Linked DNA regions of Homo sapiens: regions 1, 2, 3 and 4 are each linked to region 5. The links come from fine-mapping of genetic effects on gene expression. A gene starts in region 5. Each other region holds a variant in brackets. All regions are shown on one strand. Distances are between the middles of the regions. Region 1 overlaps CEP152 (centrosomal protein 152). Region 2 overlaps CEP152 (centrosomal protein 152). Region 3 has its middle 81 kb from the start of FBN1-DT. Region 4 overlaps CEP152 (centrosomal protein 152). Region 5 holds the start of CEP152 (centrosomal protein 152).

The links. PIP is the estimated chance that this variant, and not a neighbour inherited with it, causes the effect.
Region 1: its variant is fine-mapped to the expression of CEP152 in whole blood (TOPMed, PIP 0.98).
Region 2: its variant is fine-mapped to the expression of CEP152 in whole blood (TOPMed, PIP above 0.99).
Region 3: its variant is fine-mapped to the expression of CEP152 in monocytes after LPS (Quach 2016, PIP 0.95).
Region 4: its variant is fine-mapped to the expression of CEP152 in whole blood (TOPMed, PIP above 0.99).

The regions. Positions count from the first base shown.
Region 1 is chr15:48,769,286-48,774,392 of GRCh38, forward strand. It overlaps CEP152 (centrosomal protein 152), which reads right to left. Exons shown (of 27, transcript NM_001194998.2): 13 at 3,202-3,406. Among named protein-coding and RNA genes, the nearest start is that of CEP152, 39 kb to the right of the region's middle. The variant T/G (reference allele first, on the strand shown) is at 1,947.
Region 2 is chr15:48,752,241-48,757,347 of GRCh38, forward strand. CEP152 (centrosomal protein 152) reads right to left here. Exons shown (of 27, transcript NM_001194998.2): 20 at 3,663-4,313; 21 at 109-229. Among named protein-coding and RNA genes, the nearest start is that of CEP152, 56 kb to the right of the region's middle. The variant A/C (reference allele first, on the strand shown) is at 2,894.
Region 3 is chr15:48,723,951-48,729,057 of GRCh38, forward strand. It overlaps the pseudogene LOC645405. Among named protein-coding and RNA genes, the nearest start is that of FBN1-DT, 81 kb to the left of the region's middle. The variant T/TA (reference allele first, on the strand shown) is at 3,096.
Region 4 is chr15:48,788,617-48,793,723 of GRCh38, forward strand. CEP152 (centrosomal protein 152) reads right to left here. Exons shown (of 27, transcript NM_001194998.2): 7 at 4,705-4,845; 8 at 2,621-2,760; 9 at 185-385. Among named protein-coding and RNA genes, the nearest start is that of CEP152, 20 kb to the right of the region's middle. The variant A/G (reference allele first, on the strand shown) is at 1,902.
Region 5 is chr15:48,808,012-48,813,118 of GRCh38, forward strand. It overlaps CEP152 (centrosomal protein 152), which reads right to left and starts at 3,058. Exons shown (of 27, transcript NM_001194998.2): 1 at 2,950-3,058. LOC124903487 (a long non-coding RNA gene) reads left to right here and starts at 2,687. Exons shown (of 2, transcript XR_007064626.1): 1 at 2,687-2,796; 2 at 2,920-3,898. RefSeq lists enhancers at 2,208-2,769, 3,428-3,487 and a silencer at 3,062-3,252.

The DNA of each region.
Region 1 (5,107 bases), 39 kb before region 5:
TTATACAAATGTCTCCAATTTGCCCCAAATGTCTGTTTTCTGGTCCAAGATCAAATCCATGATTCTGAGTGGCATTTAGTTGTCATGTTTCATTAGTCTCCTCCAATCTAGGACAGCTCTTCAGTCTTTCAAACCCATGATGTTTTCTAAGAATACTAACCCGTTATTTTGTGGGATGTTCCTCAATTTGGAGTTTTTAGGTTTATTAAAATCAGGTTATGCATCTTTGGCATGCATGTCAAGAACTGATATGTGCTCTTTGCAGGAGACACATGATATCACTATGTCTCACCACTGGTAATAATCAATTGAAGGTGGGATCTGTCATCTCCATTGTAAACTTACTATTTTTTGTTTTATAATAAATGATAAGTATCTTATAGGATACTTTGAGACAATACAAATATCCTATTTCTCATCATATGTTCTCCTACTAAGATCAAGCATTTATTCTATTTCTGTATGTATTCATTTATGTCAGCATTCACTCACGGACATATATTTTATTCAATACATACAATTTTTAAGACTCATGATAGACTTTGGCGAATTGCCTTCCAGAAATGTCATCCAAATGTATACTGTCAGGTAGTACATGGGTCTGCCCATCTCTCTTTGCCTCCAATGGCAGTGATTATCTTTAAATAATTATCTTTGATGGGAAAAGAATATCTAACAATTGCTTTCATTTGTATTTCTTGTGTCACCACCAAAGTGGAACCTCTTATATACCTTCATTGTTCATTTGTTTTTCCACCTTCCCAGATTTATCTGTTCATTTAACTTTGCATATTTTCCTCTGAGAGTTTTCCTTATCTACTTTTCTTTTTATTCATTGATGGGGGTTACAAAGATTTTAAAAATATATCTACTCCGTTTCACTTGTTGTGTACCTGGACTCTGAGCTCTTTGCCACAACACAGTGGCTCATCCTTGTAATCCGAGCACTTTGGGAGGTGGAGGTGGGCAGATCACTTGAGTCCACAGCTGAAGTAACTTTGAGAAAAATTGGAGTTTAGATGTACACTACCGAGAATTCACTATGGCAATAGAGTAGCTGGACAAAAAGAATACTCAAAGATGAGATAGTTATTCCTTTGATCTATTGATCAACCAGACTACAGAGGAAAATGGGAAGGCTAAAAAACAGTACAATGCATGACCACTATCTACTGCTACACATGATAAAGTGTATCTGTATAGCAAATGCCATTAGCAAGTTTAATACAGAACAAAGAAAGCACCAAGATATCTGAGCTAAGGTTCAGACTCAAAATCAGGTTTCTAGTATCCTAAATCCTAGAGCACTCCCACCAAAATGCTTAAACTAATAAACTCTAATGTCTTAATGCAAATTGAGAAACAAGCTTTCATTCCCATCCTTTTAAAGAAATGTAGGGCAACAATGAAAACAGCTTGATTTAAAGATGTTAAATGTGCAGGGGGCAGGGCGGGGAGGAGTCTCTCTCATTTGCTGTTAATATTAAAATCTATGTTTTAGTCATCAAATGTAGTTACTCAGAAGAGGGAATCAGGCTGGAAAAGATTTTGATAGCAAAAACACTGTTTTTCCAAAATATAAAAATTAACCACAATCAAAATTCCACAATAATTAGCACAGAATATTATACATACTTTAGCAGAACTGTTCTAATGAACACAACTCCTAGTTTAAATAGGAGATAAAACAGTACTAAAGAAGGAAGTAAACAATTATCTCCACCCAGGAGGAAAAGGAGTATACTACCCACATTCCTTTTCCCTCTTCTTTTGCTTTTCTTAGTTATTAGGTGTTTTATATATTATTTTCTATTGGGAGTATAGATGGCTGATGATTTGTGAAATATGGAAGGGTAAAAAAAAGGATCTATAAAGGAGAGCAGCCCTAAAGATCTCTGTGATAGCATGATCTTACAGAAATATCTTTGACTTACTTATTAGTCATG[T/G]GTTTAGTTTCAATTTGTCTGAAATTGGCTCTGTAAATTCAAAAGTGTCACAAAGTGCTCCAGCTTCATTTTCCGAACTGAAGAATACAGAGGTGGATTTCAATGACTGACAAAACCAGATTTTGTGTACTTTCCCATAGTACCACGACCACTATATAATATCTGTACCATCATCACTATATAATTAATGTCCTCATATAGAATGACTTTTGTTGTAAGAACATGGGCCAGGAAAATCTCATAGAAAATACTACAGGATTTCTATGGAGGATTTATTTTAACTAGATTTTAGAGCACTATTGGTAAAAGCCAATCTTAAAGAAATGCAGATTCCTTGTTACAGAGAATACTTCCTTGTATTTATGGTAAAGGAATTTTACCTAATTGGTATCTCATTTACTAGGTGCCAAGAGTAACCAGAAAAAACATACAGATGCTTTTCAACTTACAATGGGTTTATCACCTAATAAAATCATTATAAGTTGAAAATATCATTAAGTCAAAAATGCATTTAATGCATCTAACCTATTAAAACCATAGCTTAGCCTGGCCTACCTTAAATGTGCTCAGAACACTTATAATAGCCAACAGTTATGCAAAGTCATCTAATGCAAAGCTTCATTTATAATAAACTGTTGAATATCTCATGAAATTTATTGAACACTGTACTGAAAGTAAAAAACAGAACTGTTTTACAGGTACTTGAAATATGGTTTCTACTGAATGCACATAACTTTTCCACCACTGTAAAGTCTAAAAATTGTAAGTCAAACCATCCTAAGTCAGGGACTGTCAGTATCCCTTTAAAAATGGCATTTCCTTCTTTAAACTTTATTTCTAAAAATGTCAAATAAACTCCTGAAAGCCAAAGGTTTATTAATTTAAAAACATGTAAAAGGGCTGGATGTGGTTAGTCACACCTGTAATCCAACACCTTGAGAGATTGAGGTGGGAGGATTGCTTGAGCCCAGGAGTTTGAGACCAGCCTGGGCAACATTGTGGGAACCTGTCTCTACAAAAAATTTAAAAATTAGCCAGGCATAGTGGCGTGCGCCTGTGGTCCCAGCTACTCAGGAGGCTGAGGTGGGAGCATCGCTTTAGCCTGGGAGGTTGAGGCTACAGGGAGCCATGTTTCCACCACTGCCCTCCAGCCTGGAAGACAGAGTGACGCCCTGTCTCAAAAAAAAAAAAGTGTAAAAGTTTTCTTTATTGAGCCTTTTAAAAATGGTTTTTTAACTCTATAGGCTTTACATACCTCAACCTCAATGCTTTTTTCATCCTTCTTCACTTGGTGGAGATCTTCAATTTTCTTATGACAGTCTTTGAGGTCATTTTGTAACTGAGACACCAGATGACGCTTCATTGAGTTGCTACCCAGCAAACGCTGTACTTCTGCCTTTAACTTCAGAATGAACTCATCTTTTGAAAGCTCTTCATTTGGGTCTTCTTCTTGTACAATGCTAATGGAGAAATTGTGATTTTTAACATTAAATCAAGTAATAAATCAGACATGGTTATTCCCTAAAAGCACTGACCACAGTGGTGAACATGTTTTGTCACCTATACAATTATATACTAGTATTTCAAAACAATTTTAAATGTTGTCATACACAAGGATTATCACCTTTGCCATGTCTCTATATACAGAAATACGTTTATTCACAGGAAGAGCCTTCTCAAGCTTAGTCCTGCTGCTCACTGTAAGTAGCTTAGAAATGTGAACTTTGACATAATTTACATTTGTGTTATTGGAAAACTGCATGCTGTATATACATGCCCTTTATGACTCTAACAGAAACAACATAAATATTAAGGAAGAAAAGAATACTAAACACTAGCCATCCTAACCAACAATTTCTGTTATTTTTTTCAACTTACTAAAACACAAGTCTGGGTGAATATCTGAGTAACTAGAAAAACACAAAAATAAAACCATGCTAATTTAAACCCAATTTTAGTTTCAATAAATTTAAAGATTGAGAGATTATCTGCTTCCTTGCCGTAATGAATTAACAAGACTAACCTTTATCTTCCTCCTTAAAAAACTAGCAAACCAAATAAAGCAAATAAAATAATAGTTTTCAATCACTAGACAACAGGCAGCACAGGCCAGGGATTCCTGAGAAAAGGAAAGCAAACAAGGTGAGCTCTAAGATTACCCCAGCTTTCTGCCTGGAGAGTGTCCAGGCCATAGCACAGGGAGGTGAAACCCAAACAGAGCCCAGTAATCTCACTGAGTTTCAGAGAAAGAATTCAGAATTTGGGGAGTCCAGAGTGGCTAGAATATGAAGGGAAGAAATACTGGGGAAAAAGAAGCTGCACAGAAAAAGAGCTCTGGAGATCTGTTCTGTATGAGTGGCTAGGGAAAAAAACATAGGAAATGAATAAGGCTGGGAATATGTTATGTTTCAATGAGCCATAATGCAAAGACTTCCTAATTTAAAGGGCATCAAATAATACCTTAGTAGTGGGGCAAAATTAGCCCCAGATTAAAGCCTTTTCTAAACCTGATGTAGTAAAGCCTATAAAGAAAGCCTTGAAAGGATCAAACTGATTCCAAGTAACTTGTGTGTCACAGAAAAAGTACAACAGTATTTTTAAAAATACAGTAATATCTGGCATCCAAAACAAAATTCAAAATGTCTAGCATTCAATCAAAATTTATCAGGCATAGAAAGAAGTAGGAAAAAAATATGAACCATACCAGGAGAAAAACCAATCAATAGAAACTAACCCATCAATGACACAGACAATAGAATTAATATATTTCATATGTTCTAGAAGGTTAAGGAAGATATGAATATGTGGAGGAAAATGGAAGATACAGAAAAGACTCAAATTAAACTTATAGAAAAAATTATAATATCTGAAATGTAAAATATACTGGATGGGGTTAATAGCATATTTAAAACTGCAGAAGAAAAGATCAGTGAACACATAGATATAGAAATAAAACTATATAATTAAAAACAAAGATAAAAAAGACTAAAACAGAAATACACAGAACATATTACATTTTCCAACATGTGTAACTGAACTCCCAGAAGAGGAGAGGGATGGAAAACATATTTGAAAAAATAATGGCCAAATTTTTCCTAATTTGATGAAAATGAAAACCCCACAAAACCCAGAAGTTTGGTGAATCTCAAGCAGAATAAACA
Region 2 (5,107 bases), 56 kb before region 5:
ATTATTACCCATTTGTTCACATCTATGATCTCCTTTTATCCTCAAAGCAACCCTTCAGATGGGTGATTATGGATGCTACAAAGACTGGTGGGAACAAAATCCAATTACCAGCTTCTGCTTCTGTTGCTTGTAAGGCCAAGGGCTGAGCATGGTGTCCAGCAGCAGGTCCAGGGTCTCCTTGGCCAGTGCCCTGGCTGGCAGAATCCTTAGAGAGCTCGGCCATATTTCTCTGAAATAAAGTATCTTCAAAGTTAATGCTTAGTAAAAATCTTTATACAATTTTATATTTAAAATGCTAATATTAAAAATACAAAGAGAAAACACTACCTGAAAAAAATCTTGCCTGAACTATCTATCGCCAATATTTTTCTTAGGGTGTTATATAAGTACTGTCACTGTACTAGGAACTAGCTTCCTATGAAACTTTCCAAATAAGAACACTGTCTGACAGGCGACTGGTGGGCAGCTATGAGACAGACAGAAGATATGGTTTGCACATTATATATGTGAATTTGAGATTTTTCAATGGTTTACGTGATTAAACCACATGAAAGACAATATAAAATCAGAATTGTTCTTGAAAATCTAGAACATTTTTACTACAGCAAGGAACAAGTTAATTAGCAAGTATAATGCTAACCCTCTGCCTCCTATGAATTGAAAATAACAGTTAAAAATCATTTTAAATTTATATAGTACTTCATATGCTTCTAAATACTTTAACATACACAGTAATTTTGTAAGGAAGGCCAGCTGAATGCCAAAGTTAAGGACAGAAACTGAGGCTTAGCTAAATTAAACATCTTGCACAAGACCATTTCTTCACTAATATTTATTGAACGTTTTTATGTTCCAGTCCTTGTCACAGCAATACAGCTACTAAATCAATGGATTTTTCATTTTTGGTTTTTGTTTTGAGATGGAGTCCTCCTCTATCGGCCAGGCTGAAGGGCATTGGCGCGATCTCAGCTCACTGCAACCTCCACCTCCCAGTTCAAGCGATTCTCCTGCCTCAACCCTCGTGATCCGCCTGCTTTGGCCTCCCAAAGTACTGGGATTACAGGTGTGAGCCACCACGCTCAGCCAAATCAATGGATTTTTATGGTAATGTTTTCAGATTTAAGATGACTACTAAATCGGAAAGGAACAGAATAGGTGGTATGGAGAAAGTAGTCTTACTGATTATTTAAAACATACTATATATGCCTGATTCTAGAAGCCTTGATTTTGATTATGAGAAACCACTTAATTGACTGTCAGAAAACCTACTTACAATGTCCAACAGAAGCAGAGGTTAGCAATTATAGAGAAGAGGCAATCAAGAAGCTATGGGTTTGAGGTCAAAAGGAGTAGGAAAAGCTGAACCAAAATGCAGTCAGTGCTTCCAGTTTTTACTCAAAACTGGGGAAGAAAAGTCAAGATAACAGAAAAGGGAGAAAAGCAACAACCTTTTTGTCTCAGTTTTAACTTGACTTTGATGGTAAAAGAGACAACATACATCCTTAAGTTTGCTTGAAAATTTTGTTCCATTTGATATTTGTTTTATCTGTTATGAACTACTGTATTAATATATTTTGATATGGCATTCATTTTCTTGAAAGCTATATTTTTCATTCATTGCATCCTCTCCATTTAAAAAAACTTTTGATTGTCTCAGTTATTTTAATGAGGACTTGTTTTTATATATTAATAAACCATCTTTTGTTTTAATTTCCATGAACAATTTTTAAAACTAGAGAGTTAATAAATTATAAATTATAGTTCCTCACATTTACAGCACCTATGTAACAAATTTAAAATCACTGCTCTATAATCATAGCTTTACCTCAAGGTCCTGAGTGAAGATAGCTCGAAAATGGCAGAAGGTCAAGTATTACTTCTATGACAAATTCCAGATTAGGCATTTCAAAGCCATCCTTTTCTCAGGAATGGAATCTGACCCACCCAACAAAAGCCGTAAACATCTAAATTCTTAGCCAGATTATGTGATTCTGTCTCCATAGACTTATGAGCCTCATTAAGTCACACAGATGATCTTATACTGCTTGCACAATTATAAGCCCTGTAAAAAGACTCCAGGGTTGATTTTATATGTATATATTAATGGTAGGAGAAAGGTGTCATAGTTTCTTGATTTTTATAACAGATTTTATAACTGTTATAAAAATCGAAACATGCTTACAAACGAAAGCATGTAAACATGATTTTCCCATCATTTCTCATCTCCAAATCTGCTATAATTTTTTAATTATATGTTTTCTCCAAGTTATTTTAATTATTTTCTCCAAAAAATCTCAATTAAGTGTGAAGCAGTATTCATGGGAAGTGATCTTGCCCAGTAAATTTTACATTGAAGGCAACTACTCGGTAGCAACATCTTTGTGAGGTCAAGGATAAAAATATCAACTGGGGTGAAGTAGGATGGAGTGAGCTGATCTTTCAGGTCCCTTCTGGCTCTAAAATTCTATACTGTTTCAAATGCAGGACCCAGAAAGGCTAAGCTGTGCCATGCATATCCTACCCAAACCCAAGGAATTAGGCCGGGGATTTGTATTTTATTTTTCCAGTGAGCAACTATGTGATTGCCCAATATAATAATCTAGTTATCATCGAATATGGAACTGAAACTCAAGGTTATTTTTTCTAGTTTATAACTCTCCCAAGTAGGTATTAATACCAAATGCTCAATCCTGGCCTTGAAACTCCTTAATCACAATATTTTGATGGAACTTCACTCTTAAGTCTCAACTCTATTAGACAAACCTTATAATACTGGCTTTTTTTTTTTTCCTGCCTCTAATCCCAAATGTTGAAATTGGCTAATCACCATGCTCAGAATATCATTCTGGATCTTTCATGCATACCTAATTGCTTTGATCATAAGGTAGCAAGA[A/C]TTTGGTTTTACTGAAACTTTCATACAAATTAAAAGCTGGTCTCAGAGAGTACTTATATAACTAAAAGAATATAATTAATTCTATATGCACATATATAGTACATCCAGAAACTGGGCTTCAGAGTTTTATGCGAGTGAGTCGTATTTATTTGCTTGTTTCTATATCAATACCTTTGTACTTGGTTGGCATTTTTTTGCCTAAATGAGACATAAATTTATTGAGGGCAATAAATAGGCTTCCAAACTCTTTACAAGCTTTTAAGAAACTCTTATTATGCATATTTCATGAAGTGGTCAGGCCCAGAAAACAGAATTTTGAAAAAAAAATTTTCAGTTTCTGAAATCTCAGGCCCTTAGAAAGAACAGCATATATTCTTTATTTTATTTTAAGTTCTGGGATACATGTGCTGAACGTGAAGGTTTACTACATAGGTATACATGTGCCATGGTGGTTTGCTGCACCTATCAACCTGTCATCTAGGTTTTAGGCCCCGCATGCATTAGGTATTTGTCCTAAATATTCTTTAGGAAAAAGATATTTAGAGGCTAAAATCTTGTCTTGTATTTGTGACACTATGAAGTAGTAAAGTTTTTTGGCAACGAAACATGCAAACCTTTGGATTTCGCTACAGAAACTTTTTTAAACCACTGACAAAAACATAAGACTTACATCTACTAAAATTTAAAAGGAAAAAAGGAAAAAACACTATATACAACTTCTATAATCATTCTTGGTGTTCAATACCTTCTCTCACTCTCAGGAACATACCTTTTTCCATTCTGGGTCAGCGTTTTCTACAAGCAGAGGAAGTGTATCTTGAAATGCTTTCTGTATGCAGCCCTTTAGTTTTTCAAAATATTGCACAGACATCCATTTTGAAGAACAAGTCGACATGATTTCCAAAAGCTGCTTGTCCTCAGAATCACTGATGTGCTCCTTTTGGGTATCACTTAAAAGAACCCCAAGTACAGTCAGGATGTCTTCCTCATACTGATAGATTTCCAGTTGGATCCGCTTGGCTTCCTGCATAGTCCATTCTCTACGACTCTGGTCTAGACAAGTTTGTAATTCTGTCTCCTTCTGAAGAAGTAGTTCAGTTTTTTGTTTCATAAAGTCTTCTTTAGCTGCCGCAAGCACCTCATTAATTTTATTTCGGTGATCATCTAAAAATTGCCGGTAATCTTGCTCATTTTGTTCTTGGATTCTGTGGATTTCTTCTTGCTTTTCTTTGTTCCATTCACTCCGAGCCTTAGCTAACTCAGCCCTGATGACCACAGGGACTTCTTCGTTCTTTAACTCAAGTTCCTTCTGAAGAGAATGAATCTTCTCTTCCAATTCCTTTCCAGGAAGTATATTTTTCCTCATATTTTCAAGCTCACTCTTCCATTTCTCTTTAGCTTCAGAAACAGCAAATGATATCTAAAGAACATAACAACATGCATTTTGAAAGTCTTTATGATTCTCCTCCTTCGCAAAAAAATTAAGGTAACTATTTTGGTTAACCTCTGAAGCTAGGAAATGTAAAATCAAAATTAAAAGGAAACATGATTTTAGATAAGACATTATTCTAAAAACTATACTTACACTAAAATTGGTCAAAATATATACATAAATATGTTTATATGTATGTATAGACACATAAACACTCACACATATAATTATATAATTAGCCAAAACTAATGTGAGAAAAAATTTCATATTACTTTTCTTAATACAGATACAATCTCAAATTTTATCTGTGCCCCCAACAAATTAAGTATCTTTTACCTAAAGCAAAAGCGGACTCATAAGGATTTTTTACTATTACTTAGGAATATAGCACACACCTGCATAATTACTTGCTGATAAGTGTAACTGTATTTTAATGCACTTTTAGTGGCTAGAACAGTTCATTAAAGGACAATACCAAACAGAAAAAGTCATTTTTCATTAGTCTAATTTGTTTGTATGACAGAATAATAGAACTAGTGGATCACAGAAAAAAACAGGTAGTACATAACTAAAAAGTAATAGCGAAATCAAAAAACCTAAGCTCCAATCCTGACACCAATTTGCAGAGGAAGCCTAGCACAGATGCTTAACAGAACAGAATCTGGAGACAAACTGCTGGAATTAACTTACCAGCTGAAGAACTAAAGGCCCATTCCTCAACTTCTTTGAGCCTCAATTTCCTCATCTATAAAATGGGGATAATTACAATGCCAATTTGATAG
Region 3 (5,107 bases), 84 kb before region 5:
GCAGTAACTCTATGGCTTCCTTGGACTCCTGTTCAGCCACATGAGACTCTTTGCATAAGTTCCTTCCCTTCTTTCTCATCTATAGAATGAGGATAATAAGACCTAGTTTGAAAAATTGTTGGAAGGATTAAGACAAAAGTGTAGGTATAGGGCTTAATATGATAACTGATCCATTGTCATGTTTAATGAATAATCTTGAAGACCTTTCAGAGTAGATTGCGACACTGGACTACATTTTTAAAAACTTTTCCAGGAAAACTAATTGGTAGCCAATGAAATCATTGACAGCTACAGGGTCACTGTGATAATACATGTATTGAGTTCACCCTGTGCTCTTACACAGATAGGATATTTCAACTTTTATTGAATAGGGTGAAATAGGGTGTTTCAATTTTTATTAACCGTTCCTAGGGAAACAGTTTGTGTAAGAGCACAGGGTCAAGAAAATATAAGAAGCAGAATTTCATCCAGTACATTCTATATACAACATGATTGATAAAATTATGAAATGAAATGAGGAAATATTTCAGACAAGGGCTATGCCTGAACCAAAACCAAAAATAAGTTTTAAAAGTTTTGTTGATTCTACTTAATTTACTCATCAGACAACATTTTTAAGAGCACAAGATTTAACATGTTCTCAAAGTTTCCAAATTATTGCTGACCTTTGTGGAAGAAGCCAATTCATTTATCTTACTTTCGAAAATAACAAAGTTTCTATTTAATGATGTTTTACTATTTTGATTTCTAATTAATTTCCTGGTCTGGTCCTTAAGGGGAAAAGTTGTTACAATTATATCAAGAGATTTAAAAATCGCATATTTACTACTAGAAAATTTCTAAATATCTTTTTTCTTTTAAGATGAACCATTACTCGTTGAATTTTAAAATTACAAAAGGTGGTTCTATAATATTACAGGCTTTCCTGTTGTGTTGGTAAATTTCTAGCTGCAGCATAATCTTCATATAATGTCATATTCTATAAATCCCTGCTAAAGAGCAAGATCTATTGCTCGTCTACATCCTGCTGAGAAAGCAAGTTAAACTGATTTCACATGTGGAGGAGCCTGCTGAACTCATTTTCCTGCTTGGAAGCATGGAGGGGAAGTGGAAGGAGCGGAAAAAGAAAAGGACTTTCCCCTTTAAAATAAATTCCAGCTCACCTGTAAGCCAAACCAAATAAAGACAGTATAGGGATTAAAGCCATGGCCTCTAGCGTCACAAGAAAAAAAAAATACATCTATATTTAAATGTAATGTTGGTTCCTTAGTTGTGAAAAAGTTACCATAGTGATGTAAGACATTAACAACAGAGGAGTCTGGGTGAGAGGTATAGAGACTCTGTATATCTTTGCAACTTTTTGGTAAACCTAAACCTATTCTCAAATGAAAAGTTTACTGCCAGATCAAATTGAAAAGCTTACCAAGCATCTTCCACCAAGAACAATTGGCTATCCACGGACTCTTGTTTATGGTACTGGAAAACATGGCACAAGCTTGCTTGAAAACTCTTTATCGAACAATGACAGGTTTAGACACCCCAGTGCTGATGGTAATTAAAGACAGTGATGGACAGGTTTTTGGTGCGTTAGCAGCTGAGCCATTTAAAGTGAGTGATGGCTTTTATGGTACTGGAGAGACCTTTGTTTTTACATTCTGTCCAGAGTTTGAGGTCTTTAAGTGGACAGGAGATAACATGTTTTTTATCAAAGGAGACATGGATTCACTAGCTTTCGGTGGTGGAGGAGGAGAATTTGCCCTTTGGCTTGATGGAGATCTCTACCATGCAAGAAGCCATTCTTGTAAAACGTTTGGGAATCGTACACTTTCTAAGAAGGAAGATTTCTTTATCCAAGATATTGAAATCTGGGCTTTTGAATAAATACAATGCTCTCTGTCTTAGCAGGAGAATGGCCCAAACCTGACATGGACAAGCATTGTTTGGAAAGTTCAAGAAGCAATACAGTGTAACATGTCACTTGTGCTTTAAAATTGGTCTGTCTCACCATTTATTACAGGTATAATTTTGGAGTTTATTTTTCAAATAATGTTCTTGTCCCAGAGTTCTTTAGGTTAACACTATGGACTGCGTCCATGTACTAGTATAACAGCTTGGGTTTGTTAGAATTTGGGCAACATTTTGATTATAATGACAACTTCATTTTCACATGTTACTCAGTTCCCTAATAGGATGGTGCTCTTTTGTTGAACCTGTATTTTTTTTTTTTAACTATATTGATTCGTTTACTAGAACCATCTAATTGGGGCATTGAGGAAATGAAGACTAGATACTTCTGTATCTGTGAAGTTGGCACAGGTAACATTTGGACATGTTCATCTTATTCTTAGGAAGGAAAAAATCACTTGCCAAAATAATACATACTTCATAGACAAAAAAAAAAAAAAAAAAGACTTGGGTATAACTTTTGGCTTTGCCTGCTGCAAGCTTGTGTTAACCATGAACAAATTACTTATCTTCTCTAAGCCTTGATTTTAGCCAACCATAAAGTGCTTATACAGAGCCTCACTCAAAAAGCTGTTGTGAGGATTAAAGGAGTTAGTGAAGTGCTTGGCACAATGCTCATCATCAAGTTAGCATCTGTAAATTAGTTGTTCTCATGACTGTGCCCACCAAAGGACTGTGCACTTCAGTACTCAAGGGAGAGCATGGTCCCTTCAATCCACCCTGTCTTGATTCTCCAGTACTGTTGATAGCAGAGTCATCTTCACAAACACCCAGGCTCTAAATCCCTTCTCAGTAGGTCCTGGAAGCATGGGTGTGTCATATTCTCAATCTTGTCACCTCTTCATTTCCACCACATCTACCCTGGCTCTGGCCTTGTTCCTTGCCTGACTGTCCTTGGACATTGTCCTCCTGGTTCCTTGGCTGTTTGCTCTGTTCCTCCAAGTCCTCCTATTATATGGCTTCCCTAATCTCTCTAAATCATGCTACCAAAACTTCAACAACTCTCCCTTTTCTATGAACCAAATTTCGAATTCTTTGGCTTTGACATCCAAGACCATCCATGATCATGATCTAGCCTCAATTTACCTATCTCACTATTCTTCATGTACTCTTTTTTTTTTATTATTTAT[T/TA]TTTTTTTTTTTTTAGAGGGAGTTTCGCTTTTTTATCCAGGCTGGAGTGCAATGGCACAATCTCGGCTCACTGCAACCTCTGCCCCCCAGGTTCAAGCAATTCTCCTGCCTCAGCCTCCCGAGTAGCTGGGATTATAGGCGCCCACCACCACACCTGTCTAATTTTTGTATTTTTAGTAGAAACGGGGTTTCACCATGTTGACTAGGCTGGTCTTGAACTCCTGACCTCAGGTGATGGGCCCGCCTCAGTCTCCCAAAGTGCTGGGATTACAGGCGTGAGCCACCGCGCCCGGCCTTCACATACTTTTAAATCTGGTTTACCTGAATCTTTAGGTAATCATATGCCTAAACCTTAATAATAGCAAACACTGAGGCCCAGACAGGCTACAGAAACAGCTAAGACACAGAGCTAATGACAAAGCAGACTTTAGGTCCTTGATGGCATTCTAAGTTTACACTTTGGAAGGACCCAACATCTACCAACATATAACAATGATGGAAAAAGTATATAGAGAAAAAAGACTTTTAAAACACAAAATGTCCCTGAGGACTTGAAAAGTAAGGTACTACCTGTTCTGTATCTAAATGTAGTAAAGGTAGGCCTGGTACGGTGGCTCATGCCTGTAATCCTAGCACTTTGGGAGGCTGAGGTGGGTGGATCACTTGAGGTCAGGAGTTCGAGACCAGCCTGGCCAATATGGTGAAACCCCATCTCTACTAAAAATACAAAAATTAGCCAGGAGTGGTGGTGCGTGTCTGTAGTCCCAGCCACTCAGGAGGCTGAGGCAGGAGAATCGCTTGAACCTGGAGGTGGAGATTGCAGTGAGCCAAGACTGCGTCACTGCACTCCAGCCTGGGCGACACAGTGAGACTCGGCTTAAAAAAAAAAAAAACCAAAAGTAGTAAAGGTGGCCAGGAGTTTCTGCAGAATAATAAGGACTAAAAGCATCCAACTGAGGAAAGGAACAAAGGACAAGCTTGCTGTCTAAAGCAGTAGTCCAGGTAGGGGTTCCTTACCTCAGGGAGGCTGAAAAAGCTACACTCTCCACCTGAGGCCACAAGTTATATTAAAACTATGTATCTAGAGAGCCTAGAGGTTAAAGGCAGAGCTTTGCAGCCAGGAACTGGGCCAAGCTGCCTGCTGGCTCAGTGACTAGCTTTAGAATAGCCCCACTAGATCAGAAATCACCTATGTAAGACCCAGTCTTGGACTGGGTACTATATGGAGCCCATATGGAGGCAACCAAAAGAACTAGACAGTGGTGGGAGAGAACTCAGAAGGAGAAAAAAAATCTTCTTCACTGTTAGACTGCAAGTTAGACTGCAAGCCAAAATTCCACACGCGTGGGGGAAACTAATTCTGTGTAAGGCAAAAACAAACAAACAAAAAGCAACAATTTGGATATGAACTCACTCCCAAGTGACATGATAAATTACTCTAGAAGTAACTTTAAGAATTTCTTAGTCTTTAAAAATATAAATACATAGAATCTATTAGAAAACAAGATTACTAAACAGGTAGAAATTTTACAAAAAGTCTAGGTGTAAAAACACCAACTAGAAATCCCGGAAGTGAAATTTCAAAACTCAATAAATTAAACAAACAAAGACAGAATTAGCAAACTGGAAGATAGTACTTCCAGTGAAAAAAGACCTCCACAAAGTAGCACAGAAAAATAAAAGTATACAAAAGAACAATGAAGAGAAACGAGGATGGGGCTATGTCTAAGAGAAGTTCCAGAAGCAGGAAACAGAAGGAATGGTGGAGTTAGAGTGGCTTCCTTCTAATCTTTACCCAAATGTTACCATCTCAGCGTGACCAACCCTCACTATTCTATTTAAATTTGTAACCACTCCCTCTTTACTCCTCTTTTTACCCTTACCTGCCCTTATTTTCTCCATAGCACTTACCAACTTCTAACATACTACATAAGTTATGTGTATTTACTGTCTCCCCTGACTAGAGTGTGAACCATGAAGGTAGAAACTCATGTTTTGATAAGCATTGTATC
Region 4 (5,107 bases), 19 kb before region 5:
TTACAGGCGTGAGCCATTGCGTCCAGCCAATATCACTGGCTTTTAAGTTTCACTCACCTCACACACAATCTAACATTTACTACAAACATCCAAGACTTCTATATGATGAACCATAAAATATCAGTTACAAAACATAACCAGCTTTACTTGTTGATAACAGTTGCTCATTTGAAATCATCCCAACCTGTTCTTTAAGTGCGGTGACTGTGGCATCCAAATTCTTTTGTAAGGACAATACTTGCTCTTCGTACTTCTTTGTGAGGCCCATAACAATGCTCTCATGCTGTTCTCTAGCTCGTTGAAGTGATTCAGAATGATGAAGGTCCACCAGCTGCTGCTTCAAGCTTTCCAGAGCCATTTCAGTTGTTCTGGACTTCTTGATCATCTAGTAAATACACACAGGATATCCATGTTTAAAATATACACAGAGTATTTTAGCTCTGTGCTGTCTATAAACTTTTACTTTTACTATAAAATAAAACTCAAGCATGTTTTAATGAGAGTAGAGAAGGGGTCTCCGCTCATCATGGCTCAAGCTCCTTAAAACAACCCTAGCTGGGACCCTCCAGGCCCATAGTTGTTGGAAACAATGTTCCCTGAGAAAATACATTTGGTAGATACCTGAGGGGAGTGAAAGAGGATTTTGCGCAGCATGATGGATGTGGCTATCAGGCACGGAATCTGCTGATGCCGTGATGGCCCCAGTGCTGTTTGCATTGCTCTATGACCAAAGTGTGGGGTAACCCAATTGTTAGGTCACAGAAAAATGACAACTGTTCCTTGAAAGACTGATGAAACCTGCCAATGGTCACTTACTAAAAACAAAGTTTTCAAAGCTGTAACTGCACAGTTGGTATTGTAGGCAAAATCATAGCCCTCCAAAATGACCGTGTCCTAATCCCCAAAACCTGTGAATCAGTTATATTACATGGCAAGGGAAAATTAAGATTGTATGTGGAATTAATATGGCTAATTAGATTGCCTTAAAATAAGGTGAGTAGCCTGGATTATCCAGGTGGGCCCAATGTAACCACAGGGTCCATAAATGAGAAAAACTAAGGCAGAAAAGTCAGAACCAGAGAGACTCAATCAGCCATTCATTGCTGGCTTTGAAGATGGAAATGGGCCACAAGCTAAGGAACACAGGTGGCCTCTAGAAGTTGGAAATAGCAAGAAAATGGATTCTCCCCTAAAGCCTCCGGAAAGCAATGCAGCCTTGTTGACACCCTGATTTTAGCCTAGTGAGATCCATGTCAGACTTCTGACCTCCAGAACTGTGAGATAAATTTGTATTGTTTTAAACCACTGAATTTGTGGTCATCTGTTACAGCAGCAATAGGAAACTAATACACTTGGTGATTCTGCTGCTTACATAAAAAAGATTACAAAGTTATAACCTTTTACTACATAAAGGCAACTTAACTTTTTAATCTAATAACTATTGGTTTTCAAAAAGTTAAAAATAATCTACATTACATACAAAAATTAAAATTTCAAGAGAATTATTCTTCATTCTATTCCAGAGATTGCCTATTTATTCCAATACTGCTTTCATGGCTAAGAGATCCATCCACTGAATGACACAGATCATTTGTGCCAGGCAGGGTTCTAAGCACTAAGGACATAATGACCAAACAGAAAAGGTCTAAGCTCTTACTACTTTCTAGTGGGAAGAGACAATAAATAACAAGTAAACAAATGAGATCATTTCAGATAGTTATAGAGTAATAGAATATGGCATGATGAAGGTGAGTTGGAGGATGGAGCTATGGGCTACCTTACATATAAAGTGAATAGCAAGTCCTCTGAAAAGGTAATTGTTTTTAGCTAAGACCTGAAGGATGAGGAGAAGCCAGACATGAGACAACACTGTTTAAACTCTTTCATTAAACCATCCTCAG[A/G]CTTAGCTACAAGTCTCACTCAAAACCAAGCTCATTATTTCATAGTCACTTTCATTTTTTTTTTCTTCAGACAAGTCTCGCTCTCGTCCCCCAGGCTGGAGTGCAATGGAGCAATCTCAGCTCACTGCAACCTCCGCCTCCTGGGTTCAAGCGATTCTGCTGTCTCAGCCTCCAGAGTAGCTGGGATTACAGGCATCTGCCACCACGCCCAGCTAATTTTTGTACTTTTTAATAGAGACGGGGTTTCACAATGTTGGCCAGGCTGGTCTCAAACTCCTGACCTCAGGTGATTCGACCGCCTCGGCTTCCCAAAGTGCTGGGATTACAGGCGTGAGCCACTGCATCCGGCCATCACTTTCATTTTTAACCCTGCCCCCTGCCAAAAAATGAATCAACCACCACCAGGCTTAGCTACCAATGACTTATGACTATTTCCAAAAATCAAATGGCTATCTCATTAATCAAAGAATGTGAATGTGTCACCACTTTAAACTCAAGTTTAAAAAACAGTTCTCCAAATGGAGAAGCAGCAGGAAAAATAAAAATAAAAGCTTCTCGGGATACCAATTCTGAAGCAAACTATTGCAGTCAGGAAATTTAAGTTCTAATGCTTTGTCAATAACTTCAAAGTTCTTCTAAATTTAGTCCTACCCTACAAAAAGTTTTGTTAAATAACTAAACTTTTAATTTTTTTACCATACATAAGTTAAAATAGGTACCTGTTCTTCATTGACTTTTAATGCTTGTATCTGAGTCTCCAGTGCTTTTATTTGAGCTTCAAGCTGTATCTCTCTTTCTTTTCCATTCTGAAAGAGTTTCTGTGATTCTCGAAGGCTGAGAGTCAAACCATCCTTTTCATCTACGGTATTAAAAATGTTTATATAAATAATGTTCCTGTAGAGGGACCCCAATGTCACAATCCCAATCAGATGTCACGTCTGTATCATATATAAATGTTGTTGAATTAAATTTAATTCAGAAAAATGAACTTTAGTTGATTTAGAGAAAACTAAATAAAGAATTTACTTACTTACTTATTTATTTATTTTGAGACAGCGTCTCACTCCGTCGCCCAGGCTGGAGTACAGTGGTATAATCTTGGCTCACTACAACCTCAGCCTCCCCAGTAGCTGGGATTACAGGCACCTGCCACCACTCCCAGATAATTTTTATATTTTTAGTAGAGATGGGGTTTCACTATATTGGCCAGGCTAGTCTCGAACTCCTAACCTCAAGTGATCCACCCACCTTGGCCTCCCAAAGTGCTGGGATTACAGGCGTGAGCCACCTCACCCAGCCCCAAATAAATAAATTATTAAAAATTAAAAATTAAAAAAAAAAACAAACCTGATACCAAAAAAATTTTTTTAGAGAAGCAGAACTACTTCCTTTAAAACTATTATTGCATCCCTTTTGGGGACAAATCCCTGCTAATCAAAGAAGTTATCTGAGGACTAATTATCCTACACATACTTGCAATGAACTCTTTTTTTTGAAACGGAGTTTCGCTCTGTCGCCAAGCTGGAGGGCAGAGGTGCAATCTCGGCTCACTGCAAGCTCCGCCTCCCAGGTTCACGCCATTCTCCTGCCTCAGCCTCCTGAGTAGCTGGGACTACTGGCGCCACCACACACCCAGCTAATTTTTTGTATTTTTAGTAGAGATGGGGTTTCACCATGTTAGCCAGGATGATCTCGATCTCCTGACCGCGTGACCCGCCCTCCTTGACCTCCCAAAGTGCCGGGATTACAGGAGTGAGCCACCGTGCCCGACCCACTTGGAATGAACTCTTAAATTCACCTAATGTTAAATTCTTCCCACATACTTTGCTATAACAGCTCACAAGTTCTTCTCTCAAAATAAATGTTATGAGCATTACAGAAAGAGACATTTTTACCATCAATTAAATTTGAAATGAGCTAGAGTTCAATCACAAAAGTATTCTGCAAATGAAAGTTCAACGTGGACCAAAACTAGAGAAAGCACAAGGAGTAAGCAATTATAATTTGAATCTGTATTTACTCTGTGTGTTTATCCCAGACATGGCACTTCACAATCACTAACTCTTATTTGGATTAAAACGTTTATGCTAATTTGTAGCCTCAGGAAACGCTGCAGTGCAAACTAAACACAAATCACTCTGAAAGCTGGAATACTTCATCCAGAGTAATGACATAAGGAATCAGACATAAGGAATCAACAACTTTTTAGGACAGAATGCCATCAGTACAGTTAAATAATGTTCAATGATTCTAAAAGCCTAAGTGAGAAAAGGGAAAATATAGGGACTCCAAAATAGAGTGTCTTTTTTTTTTTTTTGAGACAGAGTCTCACTCTGTCACCCAGCCTGAAGTGCAATGGCGCTTTCTCGGCTCACTGCAACCTCCGCCTGCAGGTTCAGGTGATTCTCCTTCTCCTGCTTCAGCCTCCCAAGTAGATGGGATTACAGGTGCCTGCCACTATGCCCCGCTAATTTTTGTATTTTTAGTAGAGACAGGGTTTCACCATGTTGGCCAGGCTGGTTTTGAACTCCTGATCTCAAGTGATCCGCCCACCTCAGCCTCCCAAAGTGCTGGGATTACAGGCGTAAGCCACCATGCCTGGTCTCCAAAACAGCGTGTTCCAAAGAGAAGTAATCCAAGGCCAACACTCAGAAATCCTGGGTTTTGTTTTGCTATGCCTCACTCACTATGAGCCCTCTGACCAAGTGTTTTTACTCTCTAAGCTTCGTATGTAATCTGAGGTTATTGGAAACAAGATATCTAACTCAGTGTACCTCATAAATGACAGCATCCAGCATCTTACCTTTTATTATTACAAGCTGGTGATTCAGATATCGAATTTGACGTTCACTTTCATTTAACTTTTCAATTAAGTTCTCCAGTTGTCTCTCTTTTGCTTTGTTAAGAACCTGAAGTTGAATAATCTGCATATTTTCTGCAGAGTCTGGGAATTAAAGACAATTTATTAGATAAAAACATACCAAAATATAAATTTATAGTCATTTAAAGCAGTGTTTTTCAAACTGTGACTACAACCTTTTAGAGCATCATGAAATCAATTCAGTGAATTGTGACTAGGATTAAAAAAGAGAGAGAGAATATATCAGAGTGCATCATGTAGTAAGAAACAGTCTTATTTTGTGAAACTTGTTTCATTTATATATACCTGTTCATATAGATACATGTTGTACACCATATCACAATGT
Region 5 (5,107 bases):
CCACTGAAGAAGGTATAAGTTTTCCTTATCAGAACTATAAACTATAAAAGACTTTAAGAAATGATTTCAGACATAAAGGGAAACCTGATCAACTTAATGTGGTTAAAAATATATATAGTAAAAAGGTAATACATATTTTAAATGAGACTTAAAATAAAAGCTAATACCTTAACTTATTAATCACCACTCATTATCACTGCTACCAGAGACTTTAGTATAATATTCAGAACAACAAAAGAGACTTCTTTAAAAAAAAAAAATAGCAAGATAGTAAATCCAAAAGCCATAAAGAAAAATGTGATGGAAACCTAACCACAAAAAATAAAATTTTGTTTAAGGCAAAAGACATCATTAACGAGTCAAATATTATATATGAAAAAATACATCAATAACAAAGTCAAGAAAAATAAGAATAAAAAAAATTTGCAAAGCACCTGACAAAGTCCCAATATAAAATTATTACAAAGAAATGAGAAAAAGACAATCCAATATAAAATTGGGCGACTGACATGACAATTTATTTTAAAAAGTGTAAATCAATTAGTTTGAAAAGATGCTTAAGCTCGTGATGTTTCAAAGAAGTGTCATTTAAACAATATGCCATTTTCAACCACTAGATTGAAAAAACAAACAAACAAAAAAAAAACTTGTTATCACCCAGTGGTGACTATTTTGTATTTTGTATGGCTCATGAGTTGCTGGTGAAAATATCAACTGCTAAACCATCTTGAAAACTATCAATATTAATATATTGAAAATTAACATTTACACTAGTAAAATTATTTTGAATTAATTTGTCAATACTATGCCACTAGTAAAAATACTGAAAATTTTCTATATCTATTGACTCAAGGCTGACCACTTGAGAAATCAAGATGCAGATTAAGTATACAGTATGTTTTGGTTTTCTTCTTCAATAGCAGTCTGGTAGACTTTCTTCCTAGATAACTTTTTCTGAACCCTTAACAAGACTATAAAAAGTATGTCTTGTTGTTACACTCAGATGGATGCTCTGACCCAGCATTCCTTTTGTTGTCCCCGGTTGTTTTCTCTGCCCTCCTTGCAACAAAAGCAATGGGTATTTGGACAAAAGATTACAAAGCAAAAGTAGCATTGTTTTTGCTTCATCTAATAAACTATAAGCACCCTGAAGGCAGAATTAAAATGTATCTGCCTGCTTGCACATGGTGGGTACATAACAAATATTTGTTGACTGAATATGATATAGGCATGTTACCTTATACGAATTCATTACTTCAATAAAATTTTATTGAATACCCACTGTGTTCCAGATCATATCCTAGATGCACCTAAGACATGGTACCAGCCATGAGGAGCTCACTGTCTCTGCTCACCCTCTCTTAGATAGAGCCACTGATATAAACAGTTACAATAACATATTGTAATAAATTCCGTAGTAGATGAAAGTACAAAGCACAAATTACTTTTCCTAAGAAGAAAGGATAGTTTAGAGAAGTTTTACAGAAAAAAAAGAGCTTTTAGATTAGAAATAAATCTTAAAGGACACAATATGGCTATAAGTGGTTCTAAGAATGAGGGCACTCATTCAGACAACCTGGGCTCAATTCTGGCTCTTCTATTTATCAGCAGTGCAATCTTGAGCAAACTGTTTCTGCTTCTACGTTAAAGAAATGGGGGTAAAAATAATACCTACTTCAAAGATTGATTCTGAGGATTCACAAGATACTACATGTAAAGTAATTAGCACTATGTACCAATCAATACATTGTAGTTTTATTACTATTATGACATTATTACTGATGAATAGGAGTCTGCCAGCTACCGAAGAGGTTTAGGGAATAAAGAGGATTCCGCATATCTGAGAAAAGGTGAATGTGCAGCCTATGAGAAATGTCACTTCTAATAATGCAACCTCCTATGGAACAAAAATGCCACCCTCCTTCAAGATGCCCTCCCAAGCCTGTTCCCCCATGGAGCTGGCCACTCCTTTGCACTTTCAGACTGTATTTCTTATGCTTTTCTTATGGCTTCAACTTCAGCTTCTCTTTAGTTGAGTGCATTCACCTGTCTAGGGAGTGCATGTTCATTGTCACGCACTATGAAGGTATAAGGTGATAATAGGCTTAAATCAGACTCAAGTTCATGACTACGATATAGGAAGGGTTATAAACCCCCACAAAAGGGGTTTCTAAGAACTGCACTTGGAGTTGGGAAATTCTACTTACTTGCTGACATAACTCGCCTTCTAGAATGGAAATAGCCAGAGCACATAGCCCGGTTTAGACTTGCAACACCTGGTGGAGACACCTTATTCATTCATTCGACAATTTACCAAGCACTGTTCAAGATTACAAAGTTTAACAGGACACGATGAAGGGAAAGAAAATAGACATATAAACAAATGATCACAACATCTTGTGATCAGTGCTAATAACAGCACTTTGGACAAATTGATTCAAGTTGCCCAGAGGGCGGAGCGAGTAATGCTAATACACAATAAGCATCCACAGGCTGAGCGAATGACCTTGAGGAACTGTTTGGCGTCAGCTACGGCACTACAAACATGACCAAAGCCGCACGGGGCCCAGGATGCCCGGGGCTACTGGCTTCGGGTGCCAGCGTCACTTGTACTCGGTCAACACACGTGCACAGAGCACCTACTGTGAGCCAGGCGTGACGCCAGGGTGACCAAGGCGGGGTCCGCAGAGTAGGGTCTCAGGGCGACCCCAGCAGCCTGGAAACGAGGCGGGCTTCCCATATGTCACTTCTAAGTAGGATATTGGAGGAATGAAGAGGTCTAAATGACACGTTAAGGTAAAAGCTGAGCCCGCAACATGCGGGCAGTCCACCACCGCGGGATTTGGGGAGGGGGCAGGTCAGCCCCCCCAGGAACCCTCAGCCAGCATCCCGAGGACCCCGCAACTCCTCTAACCCCAGGTCCAAGCTCACCCGTGAATCAGAACTTACCGGAGGCCACGGAGGCTGTTACCGCGAGGAAACTCTAGTCCTGGCGGAAGACCAACTTCTAGCAGATCCCCTTACCCTGGCTCTAGTCCACTAGCTCCTTCCTAGTCACAACCGAACTCACGGGGCGGAGGCCCTTAAGGAGCACTCGCATCCTTCAATCGCCGACTAGAAGCTCGCCCGGTGGGCGGAGCCGTGCCAGCTCAGGGCAGAGCGAGGAGGCAGAAGTCTCCGCCTTCCTCAAGCTTGGTTGAGAAGTCCACCTGCAGTTGCAAAGTACGGCTGTTTGAAAGCGGGCGCCAGAGGTGGCGGGAAGCTCCCCCTGTGCGCCCATTGGTGGATTCGAGAGCCAATTACGAGGAAGTCACCCCGGAGTGGGCGGGCTGATCGGTTGCCTAGAGACGCCGAGGCGCTTCACCCGCTACCTTCGGCCAGGGTGCAGCAGTCTTACGGGGACCCCTTGCCCGTTTGGTACCGGAGACTGCAAAGGTGACTCGTGCCTCCTGCGCTTCAGCACACAGAATCCCGCAGATTCCCCACCGAACTCTTGCCTTAGAGGTTTTTTACATTTGCCCTTGTTTTCTAAGGCGCCTGCTTCCCCATTATTTAACAGCCTTAGATATTTTGCTTTGTCTTCTACCTTACTAGGTGCCGCTTTGTTTACATTTTTGCTTCTTTAATTACTGATAAGATGGCACATTTTTCCACGTGTCTATTTACTACTCTAATTTCCTCGGGTGTGAGTGTTCTTGTCACTTAGGTGTATATTATTAACCTGCCCCTAAAGACAGCGCCACCCAGTCCTCAGTAAAGCCCAGTACTGTGTCTATCTTCTCTGGCTGAAAGGGTTCCAGTGAATAATCAAGGAATTGGTGGCGGCAGGTTCACATATCCTTTCAACCCTTTCCCATGTGTACTGGCACGGAGTAAAATGGTTGTTCGAGGCTCTTCATACTGTGGCTGGTTTTCCTTTGCTACTTCACCGTCCGCCCCCATGATGCCTACACTGACCCCTGTAACCCCATAAACTGGTATAGGGTTTGGCAAACAACAGGTAATTTAACCCACTGTAATAGAATGAACGAAATCACAGCCTGAGCTAACAATGGTTCCCAGAGCGCTTTTTTTCTTTCACCTGCTGTGAAAGCTGTTTCTTTCACCTGCATCGCCTCTACCTTCTCCTGCTACTTAGTTTTGAAGACAGACTAGCACCTCCTTTGAAGCCTTTCATGACACACACTCCCTCACTTCGCAAAAATGATCTTTCCTACCTCTGTACACAGTGTATCCTATATATCCTATTATAGTTCTTTTATCTACTGTAAGTTTTTGTGTGTCTTACACTCAGTACAACGTGAATATCTTGAAGTACTCACTTTACTTCTTGGGTGTCTAACATGACCCTGGTAGGCACTCAAAACAATTATGTTAAATGAGTAAATGAATAAATGAACAAATAGATGAAGATTTTGGCAGGGGGGCAGGCAGAAAAAGCAAATAAAAGGCCTTCAAGTAAATGGCATTTGTTGAATCTGAGCCAAGGCATCTTAGTGAGAATTAAATGCACTTTTCACTTTTCACATCCCACTGAAGTCGATTGGCAAACTGTATGTTGCATTCTGTGCTGAGGGTTATGATGGAGTGCTGCAGCAAGAATGCCAGGTGATCCCCATGCACAAACAACTGCTTCTTAGAAGGATGAAAGCATAAAACGTGTCAGGGTAAGCACATGAGGAGGCAGTGTTTATAATCCATTACACAGTGCTTTACAGATTGGTAAATTCTTTCACAAGCATCATCTCATTTGGTTCTCACTACAACACTGTGGGGGGTTAGGACAGGTATTCCTACCCATTTTCCAGTTGAAGAAACTTACATAAAAATAAATTAAATGACTTGTCCAAGGCTACACAGCTAATACAAGGCAGACAGAATCTGAAACCAGGTCCTTTATCTCCAAACCCAGAGCTCATCACTACATACAAAATATTTTAGTGAGACTAGCATATACGTGACAAAGAGGGAAAATAAAGAATAAATCAACCTCCCATCCTGCCATGCCTCTAAAAATGGTTTTTGGTGGAGTTATGGATATATTCAACTAAATTTCTTTGACCACCTATCCTGTTTAAGTCCTGGCCTAGGTGCAGGGTAGGACCCC